Regions from separate parts of the Homo sapiens genome. Here all the other regions are linked to region 4. The links come from fine-mapping of genetic effects on gene expression. A gene starts in region 4. Each other region holds a variant in brackets. All regions are shown on one strand. Distances are from middle to middle. Region 1 overlaps FAAP24 (FA core complex associated protein 24). Region 2 overlaps GPATCH1 (G-patch domain containing 1). Region 3 overlaps GPATCH1 (G-patch domain containing 1). Region 4 holds the start of GPATCH1 (G-patch domain containing 1).

What was found.
Region 1: its variant is fine-mapped to the expression of GPATCH1 in whole blood (TOPMed, PIP above 0.99). The same link has a PIP of 0.9 or more in neutrophils.
Region 2: its variant is fine-mapped to the expression of GPATCH1 in whole blood (TOPMed, PIP above 0.99).
Region 3: its variant is fine-mapped to the expression of GPATCH1 in whole blood (TOPMed, PIP above 0.99).

The regions. Positions count from the first base shown.
Region 1 is chr19:32,976,408-32,979,069 of GRCh38, reverse strand. FAAP24 (FA core complex associated protein 24) reads right to left here. Exons shown (of 5, transcript NM_152266.5): 5 at 841-2,639. The coding sequence ends at 2,388. It overlaps RHPN2 (rhophilin Rho GTPase binding protein 2), which reads left to right. Exons shown (of 15, transcript NM_033103.5): 15 at 1-478. Among named protein-coding and RNA genes, the nearest start is that of FAAP24, 5.5 kb to the right of the region's middle. The variant G/T (reference allele first, on the strand shown) is at 1,566.
Region 2 is chr19:33,116,126-33,118,809 of GRCh38, reverse strand. It overlaps GPATCH1 (G-patch domain containing 1), which reads right to left. Exons shown (of 20, transcript NM_018025.3): 16 at 769-985. Among named protein-coding and RNA genes, the nearest start is that of WDR88, 15 kb to the left of the region's middle. RefSeq lists an enhancer at 191-360. The variant C/T (reference allele first, on the strand shown) is at 1,150.
Region 3 is chr19:33,127,414-33,130,097 of GRCh38, reverse strand. All of the region lies in intron 19 of GPATCH1 (G-patch domain containing 1), which reads right to left. Among named protein-coding and RNA genes, the nearest start is that of WDR88, 3.4 kb to the left of the region's middle. RefSeq lists a silencer at 905-1,049 and an enhancer at 2,616-2,684. The variant G/C (reference allele first, on the strand shown) is at 1,102.
Region 4 is chr19:33,079,733-33,082,416 of GRCh38, reverse strand. It overlaps GPATCH1 (G-patch domain containing 1), which reads right to left and starts at 1,236. Exons shown (of 20, transcript NM_018025.3): 1 at 1,151-1,236. The coding sequence starts at 1,223. RefSeq lists an enhancer at 1,012-1,341.

The DNA.
Region 1 (2,662 bases), 100 kb after region 4:
TCAAGCGATTCTCCTACCTCAGCCTCCCAAATAGCTGGGACTACAAGGTGCCCTCCAGCATGCCTGGCTGATTTTTGTATTTTTAGTTGAGGTGAGGTTTCACCATGTTGGCCAGGCGGGTTTCGAAATCCTGACCTCAAATGATCCACCCACCTCAGCCTCCCAAAGTGCTGGGATTACAGGCATGAGCCACCACAACCGTCCCACTATTTTACTTTTTAAAATGACATTCCTACTGATTGATTTTTATCTTGCTATAAGTTCGATGACACCGTGAATCTAATAAGGTTCACTGTTGACACAGTACAAGTTACATAGCTAAAATACATAGCATTGAAGACTAATTTTAAGGATTGACAAGAGTTTATTTTCTATTGTGCAATATCTTAAAGGAAGCAACCACCTTTGGGAAAGTGTATCTGCTGCTCCTAGGGCCATGCTTGTATACATATTTAAATAAACATATTCATTTACCCGAGTTAATATTTCTTTTTACTTTTATTTCATTTTCATTCCCTCCTCTTTCAAATTGTTTCTCCCCAATGCACACAGTTTCTAATGTTCTGATTTTTTTAGTTACTAACATTTCACAAAGCAGAACTTAAAAAGCTGTCAAGTTATCTTAGTATTTTCTAAGACAGATGGTATCTTTGTGCTTATTTTTTGTTTTTGTCTTTTTTTCAAGACAGGGTCTCGCTTTGTCACCCAGGCAGGAGGACAGTGGCGCAATTGTGGCTCATGGCAGCCTCAACCTTCCGGGCTCAAGCAATCCTCCCACCTCACCCTCCTGAGTAGCTGGGACTACAGGCATGAGCCACCATGCCTGGCTAATTTTTTTGATTTTTTTGTAGAGATGGGGTCTTGCCATGTTGCCCAGGCTGATCTCGAAATCCTGGACTCAAGCAATCCTCCCACCTCAGCCTCCCAAAGTGCTGGGACTACAGGTGTGAGCCACTGTGCCTGGCCTGTGTCTATTTTTTGAATGGGCAATTTGTACCTTTTGATCCCCAGCCCCTGCTTCCCTCACTAGATGCAGCTGCTGCCATCATTTTCTTGTATCCTTCCATTGTTGGGCCTTTCATATACAAACACAGCCTGTTCTGCCTCATGCATGTTGAGTTTTCAACTTTAAATTTTTTTTTTTTTTTTTTGAGATGGAGTCTCACTCTGTCATCCAGGCTGGAGTGCAGTGGTGCAATCTCGGCCCATTGCAACCTCCACCTCCTGGGTTCAAGCGATTCTCGTGCCTCAGTCTCCTGAGTAGTTGGGATTACAGGTGTGTGCCACCACACCCAGCTAATTTTTGTATTTTTAGTAGAGACAGGGCTTCACCATGTCGGCCAGGATGGTCTGGATCTCCTGACCTTGTGATTCACCCCCCTTGGCCTCCCAAAGTGCTGGGATTACAGGTGTGAGCCACTATGCCCGGCCGTTGAGTTTTCAACTTTAAGTGGGAACTTCAGACTTCATACTTTCTGTGTGCAGAAGACATATGCAGTGATTATAAACAAACTGTACATCTGCCAAAAAAAAAGGCCGGGGGGAGGGAGGAACAAAGGAAAGGA[G/T]GAAGGAACTGTTGCGCAGTTATTTATTTACATTGGAAACAGCCCTCGCAGTACGGGTATATGAAGGCCAGACCTGATGAACAGCAGGTGAAACTCTGGGAACCCAGGGCTTAGGATACACAGTGCTTCCTTGTACATTTGTTTCCTTCAGATGGTCACATCCACCACTGAAGCTTTTTAGAAGGCACTTTCCATGACAGATGCAGGTCAAGGTCGCACATTAAAATCGGCCCTAATGCTTTTTGCTGAGTGTGAGTCCCTGACTCTCTTGCGAAGATCCCACCAGCCCTTTTCGTCTTAGCAGAATGAAGGCAGTGCCCTCTGCGGCCCACTAACTTCACAAGCTGAACTCAGACGCTAAGGCAGGACGACCCACGGGCTCCATTCAAGCCTCGCCTCATCTTTCACTGGTTGCTGCTGGAGAAAATCCTTTTTCTTTTTTTTTTTTTTTTGTTGTTTTCTTTGAGACGGAGTCTCGCTCTGGTGCCCAGGCTGGAGTGCAGTGGCACGATCTCAGCTCACTGCAACCTCCGCCTCCCGGGTTCAAGTGATTCTCATGCCTCGGCCTCCCAAGTAGCTGGGATTACAGGCACCTGTCACCATGCCTGGCTAATTGTTCCTATTTTTAGGGGTTTCTCCATGTTGGCCAGGCTGGTCTTGAACTCCTGACCTCAGATGATCCGCTGTCTTCGGCCTCCCAAAGTGCTGAGATTAGAGGCGTGAGCCAGTGCACCCGGCCCATTCTCTTGGTTTTTAAAGCTGAAAACAAGATCCTGGTGTTTGTGGTCTCAGGAGAAGATGCCGTGGCCCTGAGGCCAGCCCTCACCTGGGCTGCGTGAAGAAGGCATGGATCTGCTGTGCCACTGCTTGTCCGACCACCTGCTCCAGTTCCCCAATGGAAGCATTACTCAGTTGCTGGATGCTTGGAAACTTCTGGAGGAGAAGGGGAGCTTTAACTTTTCCAACTCCTGGGATCTGCTGCACGGTTCGAAGGAGCGAAGGCTCAGACAGCAGCAGGGCCCGTTTCTTCCCGAGAAGAGGGTTCTTACTGGGCTCTTTGGTTTGCTCTTGAACCTGAACCACAATGAAAGCAACAG
Region 2 (2,684 bases), 36 kb before region 4:
GGCACCTGCAACCAAGGGCAGCAATGGCTGAGGTACAGCGTGCCAAGTGCACCCGTGGGCACGTAGCCTAGCGCCCCTAAGACCTGAAAAGTAGAAATGTGTCCCCAAGAAAGGGCCATCTGAGAAGGAAAATCTTACAAACCATCAGGAATGTAAGACTATGTATGTCCCATCACAGAGAACTGCGGGAGACAAGTTTCACTCAAAATAAATTATCAAAGAAAAAACCTTGAAGATAAATGATCATATTCACGTTAATAATCTTGTTTTTTAAGCAGATTACTATATATTCAGATAGAAGAGATATAAAAATTTTAAAAGTCTGGAAAACTAGCCGGGCACTGGGATTATGCCTGTAATCCCAGCACTTTGGGAGGCTGAGGTGGGCAGATCACCTGAGGTCAGGAGTTAGAGACTAGCCTGGCCAACATGGTGAAACCCCATCTCTACTAAAAATACAAAAATTAGCCAGGGGTGGTGGCACATTCCTGTAGTCCCAGCTACTCAGGAGGCTGAAGTGGGAGGATTGCTTGAGCCCAGGAGGTGGAAGCTGCAGTGAGCCGAAGATTGCGCCACTGTACTCCACCCTGGGGACAGAGCCAGATCCTGTTTCCAAAAAAAAAAAAAAAAAAATTATATACATATAAAAGATTACATATCATTGATTGCTAATCATTCGGGTTTAAGATTATAGAGTAAACAGAGAAGCAGCTGTCCTAGAGTCATTGTCTTCTCCTTTAGATCCCCGAGTCTGAAATACTGACATACCGTGAGCCACAGATGATGTTTCCCCCAAGTCAGTGTCTTGGGAGCTTTGGAAGTTGGCCTCCCCAGAGCCTGCCTGATCATCTTCACTGTCACCTTGCTCATCCTCGGAGGATGAGGACTTTTCATCTGAGGAACTGGCAAAGATGGCCCTGAATAAGTCCATGGATGGGCGGCTCCCTTCTCCTTCAGCCTGTGCGTCCACATCTTTGTTGACGGTCTGTATTGACAGTGAAATAAGAGTCAGGGATACAGAGGCAAGGGTAAAAGGGAGGAGACATTCTAGAATACACTCCCAGACACACATATTTATGTTTATGCTCATGTACATGGGTATCCATAGCCACACACCACCCAACTAAACAGTGATCACTCACATAGCTT[C/T]TATTTTTGTGGTGTTTCCGAGTCAACAACTGTACAATGTGCTGATGAGGTCAAAGAAGCAAAACCGGGCCAGGCGTGGTGGCTCACCCCTGTAATTCCAGCACTTTGGGAGGCCTAGGCGGGTGGATCACAAGGTCAGGAGATCGAGACCATCCTGGCCAAAATGGTGAAACCCTGTCTCTACTAAAAGTACAAAAATTAGCTGGGCATGGTGGTGGGCGTCTGTAATCCCAGCTACTAGGATCCCCAAAAATGCAGTAGAGCACTGTGCCTCTGTTCTATTTCCAAACTCAGATTCAGGCAACTTAACAAACCCCAAACAAAATAAACTCAAAAGAATTCACACCCAGATACATCATAATCAAACCGCTAAAATCCAAAGACCAAGTAAAAATCTTGAAAGCAGCTAGGAGAAAAATCACATCATTATGTACAGAGGAATAATAATTTGTTTTGGGGTTTTTTGAGCCAGGGTCTCACTCTGTCACCCAGGCTGGAAAGCAATGGTGCGATCATAGCACACTGCAGTGTTGACCTCCTGGGCTCAAGTGATCCTCCAACCGTAGCCCCTTGAGTAGCTGGGACCACAGGTGCATGCCACCACACCCAACTAGTTTTTTAATTTTTTGTAAAAGATGGGGTCTCACGATGTTGCCCAGGGTAGTCTCAAACTCCTAGCCTCAAACAAGCCCCCTGCCTCAGCCTCCCAAAGTGCTGGGATTATAGATGTGAGCCAACACACCCAGCCTGAGGACAATTTGAATGGTTGAAGATTTCTCATCAGAAATCACGAAACCCCGGAGGAAGTAGCAGTTTAATTTAAAAAAAAATTGGCCATGCGCAGTGGCTCACGCCTGTAATCCCAGCACTTTGGGAGGCCGAGGCGGGTGGATCACGAGGTCAGGAGATCGAGACCATCCTGGCTAACACAGTAAAACCCCGTCTCTACTAAAAATACAAAAAATTAGCCAGGCGTGGTGGCGGGCGCCTGTAGTCCCAGCTACTCGGGAGGCTGAGGCAGGAGAATGGCGTGAACCTGGGAGGTGGAGCTTGCAGTGAGCTGAGATCGCGCCACTGCCCTCCAGCCTGGGTGACAGAGCGAGACTCCGTCTCAAAAAACAAACAAACAAAACAAAACAAAAATTATCAACCCAGAATTCTATATCCAGCAAAAACATCCTTCAGGAATGAAGACAAAATATAAGACATTCTCAGATAATGGCAATTTAAGAGAATCACTTGTTGGAACTGGTCTAAAAGAAATGCTAAAGGAAGTTCCTCAGACAGAAATGATAGGTGAGGGGAACGTGGAACTTCAAGGATGAAGAAAGAGCAACAGAAATAGAAAATATCTGATTAAACAGAGTAGGCTATTGTCTCTGCATCGGTTCTTTTAAAATATGTTTAATGACTAAAAGCAAAAATGATCACCACTGGTTTGATGGCATTTTCATTGTGTGTACATGTAATATGTAAGACAGCATAGAGGGAGGAGAGTAAAAGGACCTACATAGTGCTAAAGCTTCTCTATTCTA
Region 3 (2,684 bases), 48 kb before region 4:
AAGTTAGCTAAAGTGAAAAACCAAACAGCTCCGTGGAGGCTGAGAATGCCAGGCCTCCCCATATCACAGCAGCATGTCTGCACCTACAAAATGCACTCACAATAACCCACAATGAAGTACTGCCTAATCTGTGCTTTTTTTTTTTTTTCCCCCGAGATGGAGTCTCACTTTTGTCGCCCAGGCTGGAGCGCAGTGGTGCGATCTCAGCTCACTGCAACCTCCGCCTCCCAGGTTTAAGCAAGTCTCCTGCCTCAGCCTCCAGAGTAGCTGGGATTACAGGCACATGCCACCATACCCAGCTAATTTTTGTATTTTTAGTACAGATGGGGTTTCACCATGTTGGCCAGGCTTGTTTCGAACTCCTGACTGTGATCTGCCCGCCTCGGCCTCCCAAAGTGCTGGGATTACAGGCATGAGCCACCGTACCCGGCCAATCTGTGTTCTTAAAATGCTTCTTCTATTACCCTGAAAACACACAGAGACTCACTCACCCACACCTCGTATTAAGACCACTTATAAAAGCAACTTTTTTCCCTAGTCTTATTTAGCCTTGAGAATACAAGCAATTTTTAATCTCAGTTTCACTCACCTACCGCATCCGTTGCATGACCCTTGGGAAGGAACTAAAATACATTCACTCCAGGGCCCAAAGCATCCAAGTTGTCTTTTTTTTTTTTTTAATTTTTTTATAGAGACAGGGTCTCCCTATATTACCCGAGCTGGTCTTGAACTCCTGGGCTCAAGCGATCCTCCCATCTTGACCTCCCAAGGTATTGGGATTACAGGCATGAGCCACCATGCCCAGCCCCCAAGTTGTCAGTCTTAAATCTGAATTTCTTTTCTTTTTTTTTTTTTGAGACAGAGTCTCTGTCACCCAGGCTGGAGTACAGTGGCGCGATCTCGGTTCACTGCAACCTCCACCTCCCAGGTTCAAGCGATTCTCCTGCCTCCACCTCCTGAGTAGCTGGGACTACAGGCACGTGCCACCACGCCTGGCTAGTTTTTTTAGTAGAGATGGGGTTTGGGGTTTCATTGTGTTAACCAGGATAGTCTCGATTTCCTGACCTCATGATCCGCCTGCCTCGGCCTCCCAGAGTGCTG[G/C]GATTACAGACGTGAGATACCGCACCTGGCCTAAATCTGAATTTCATACATATAGGAATGTTCGTGGCAGTTCTATTTGAAACAGAGCTGGGTCACACTGGCTGAAAATCCCTGCTCCACAGACTCAAAGTAAAAAACCCAGTATCCACACAACAGAAGAGATAAACATACCGTGGTGTGCTCACAAGAAGGAATCTTCCACAGCAATGACTACAAGCCCCTCACTGCTGCCTACCATCATCTGAAGGAATCTCAGAAGCCAGACACTCAAAGAATTCACACAACACCCTTCTTCCCAATAAAGATAAAACTGGCAAGAGCAGGCCTGCGCAGCGGCTCACGCCTGAGGCTGAGGCAGGAGGATCACTTGAGGCCAGGAGTTCGAGACCAGTTTGGGCAACATAGGAGATCCCATCTCTACAAAAAAGATTTTTTTAGGCCGGGTGTGGTGGCTCACGCCTGTAATCCCGGCACTTTGGGAGGCCAAGGCAGGCGGATCACCAGGTCAGGAGATTGAGACCATCCTGGCTAACACGGTGAAACCCCGTCTCTACTAAATATACAAAAAATTAGCTGGACGTGGTGGCGGGTACCTGTAGTCCCAGCTACTCAGGAGGCTGAGGCAGGAGAATGGCGTGAACCCAGGAGGTGGAGCTTGCAGTGAGCCAAGATCGCGCCACTGCACTCCAGCTTGGGTGACAGAGCAAGACTCTGTCTCAAAAAAAATGATTTTTTAAAAAAATTAGCTGGGTGTGGTGGTGCACACTTACAGTCCCAGCTACTCTGAAGGCTGAGGTGGGAGGATCCCTTGAGCCGGAGAGGCAGAGTTTACAGTGAGCTGTGATCAGGCCACTGCACTCCAGCCTGGGTCACAGAGCGAGACTCTGTCTCAAAAAATAAAATAAAATTCATACCCTATAAATATATGCTATATAAAATTATATTACTTATATTTAAAATGTGCACAAAAATCTGTATATAGGCCAGGCATGGTGGTTCACACCTGTAATCCTGGCACTCAGAGGCCAAGGTGGGTGTATCACCTGAGGTCAGGAGTTTGAGACCAGCCTGGCCAACATGACGAAACACTGTCTCTACTAAAAAAATACAAAATACAAAAATTAGCTGGGTGTGGGGGCGGGTGCCTGTAATCCCAGTTGCTTGGGAGGCTGAGGTAGGAGAACTGCTTGAACCCGGGAGGCAGAGGTTGCACTGAGCCAAGATCGCACCACTGCACTCCAGCCTGGGTGACAGAACGAGACTCGTCTAAAAAAGAAACAAACAATGTGTATGTGCATCCATGTACGTGAGTGTGTATGTGTGTGTGTGTGGTTGCACAAAAAAGGTCTTAAAGGTTACATATGAAACTGATGGCAGAAGTTACTGTGGAGAAAGTAGAGGTTTGGAGAACTAGTCAGGGCTCCTTTAAGCATTGGCTGTAAGGTCTGAATTTTCTTTTCTTTTTTTTTTTTTTTTTATTGAGACAAGAGTCTCGCTCTGTCGCCCAGGCTGGAGGGCAGTGGCACAATCTCGGCTCACTGCAAGCTCCGCCTCCCAGGTTGACGCCATTCTCCTGCCTCAGC
Region 4 (2,684 bases):
GAAAAAAGGGAGGGGACCCCCACCAACAGGAGGTCTGCAAATAAATTGTGGCCCAATGATTCCACCATTCTTCCTCTGCCTTCCCTACAGGGCTAGCACAGCCAACAGCCCTTACTGGACACTCAATACATAACTTGCTGAACAAGTCAAGTCGTTAAGTGGAACAGACCAGAAACACAGGAGAGAACCTTGATTCATCTTGCCCCTCACCCCCACATTCCACCAGCAAGTATGGTCAGCTCTGCTTTCAAAATATATCTCCACCCAGACCACTACACACCACCACCACTGCTGTCCCATCCATGCCACCATCATCTCCTGACCTCTTTTTGCTAATCTCCCTGCTTCACTCTTACCCATCCCCAACCAGTGTATTCTCAACATCAAAGATAGAATAACATTAAAAATTGGCCGAGCACAGTGGCTCAAGCCTGTAATCCCTGCACTTTGGGAGGCAGAAGCGAGAGGATCACTTGAAGTCAGGAGTTCAAGACCAGCCTGGGAAACAGAGCAAAACCCTGTCTCTAAAAATCATATATATATCCCTCCCTGTGTAATTTCCCATGACCCTAACCCTAACCCTAATCCTGCACTTAGTACAAGATCCAAACTCTTTACCCTACCAAGTAAGATCCAGCCCCTGTCAGCCCCTCTGACATTCTTTTCTACCTGTCTCCCCCGCTGTCATCTGCTGCAACCATACCCGTCCTGCCTGCCCCTCAATTTCCTAAACTGGCTCCCACTTCAGGGCCTTTGCCACTTTATGTTCCTTCTGCCTGAAATGCTTTCCCTCCAGATTTGCTCATGGTTGTTTTCTTCCTCGGTTTCAAGTCTGAGCTCAAACGTCCTCTCTCGGGGAAGACACTGCCTGAGCACCCCCCGCTCTCACACTAGCTATTCCGTCATTTTCTTGTTTCTATCTCGCCGCCCCCTTGTTCGGCCACGCTTGTGTCTCCCGTCCCTGTAAACCTCTCTCTGTCGCTGCAGAAGGTGAGCACCCCGAGAGCGCGGCTAACGCCTCCCTCGTCGCCGTGTTCCCAGCGCTGGGAACGATCTAACAATGGTCCAGCACCGACTTGTGCTTTTGTGGCCCGAATCCTGGGCCCTTGGCCTGTTTTCCACAGGCTCCGCCGGCCCACGCGGCCCGCACCTTCTTCCAGAGGCTCCAGCCCGGTCCCATAGCTGACCAGATCTTCTTCGCTGTCACTGTCCCGCGCCGCCATCCTGCTCTTCCGGGCCCCGCCCCCTCGCTACGGCGGCCTTGGCAGGCCAAACGCCTTTCCTCTTTCTCCTCCGCGAACCCCGGTGATGCTGGAAGGCTGGGTCCGCGGGCGGGGGAAGGTGTCCTAGCGGCCCGAGCCTGCGCTCCGGATTCTCAGGCCCATCCTGTGGTAGGCCGTCCCAGGCAGGAGTTGCCTCGGAGGATTTGGCAGCCACGACATCCCATCCTAGCCCCGCGATGTGCGGGTGAGGAGGAGACTCCTGGCATAAGCTGGAAGCCACCCAACTGTTCCCTGCGAGGCGACACCGATGCCTGCCCAGCCCCCTACCCCCGTCCCTCGCGCCAGCCCCCTGCCTTGGCAGCAGTCACTGCCCAGCCCCGTCCACTCCCACCGCCCACCCAGCCACCTCCAGGGAAATGGCTGAGCTCCCAGATTTCATGCTCGCCCCGTGGGGCTTCGCTTTATTTTTATTATTATTATTTTTTACTTTTATTTTGGGTTCAGGGGTACATGTGCAAGTTTGTTATATAGGTAAATTGCATGTCGCAAGGGATTTGGGTTACAGATTATTTCCTCCCCAGGTAATAAGCATAGTACCCAATAGGTAGTTTTTCCGATCCTCACCCTCCTCGTACCTTCCACCCTCAAGTAGGTCCACCCTCAAGTAGGCCCTGGTGTTATTCCCTTTTTTTTTTTTTTTTTTTTTGAGACAGAGTCTCGCTCTGTCGCCCAGGCTGGAGTGCAGTGGCCGCGATCTCAGCTCACTGCAACCTCCGCCTCCCAGATTCAAGTGATTCTCCTGCCTCAGCCTCCTGATAGCTGGGATTATAAGCGTCCACCCCACCACGCCCTGCTAAATTTTTGTTTGTTTGGTTGGTTGGTTGTTGTGGTGGTTTTTTTTTTTTTTTTCTTGAGACAGAGTTTCACTCTTGTTGCCCAGGCTGGAGTGCAATGGCACGATCTCGGCTCACCTCAACCTCCGCCTCCCGGGTTCAAGCGATTCTCCTGCCTCAGCCTCCCTAGTAGGTGGGATTACAGGCATGCACCACTATGTCTGGCTAATTTTGTAATTTTTTTTTTAGTAGAGACGGGGTTTGTCCATGTTGGTCAGGCTGGTCTCGAACTCCCCACCTCAGGCGATCCATCCACCTTGGCCTCCCAAAGTGCTGGGATTACAGATGTGAGCCACCGCACCCGGCCATTTTTTTTTTTTTTTTTTTTTTTTTTTGTATTTTTAGTAGAGACTGGGTTTCACCATGTTGGCCAGGCTGGTCTTGAACTCCTGACCTCAAGTGATCCACCCGCCTCGGCCTCCCAAAATGCTGGTATTACAGGCGTGAGCCACTGCGCCTGGCACCTGTCATTCCCTTCTTTATGTCCATGTGTGCTCAATGTTTAGCTCCCACTTATACGTGAGAACATGCAGTATTTGGTTTTCTGTTCCTGCATTAGTTTGTTTAG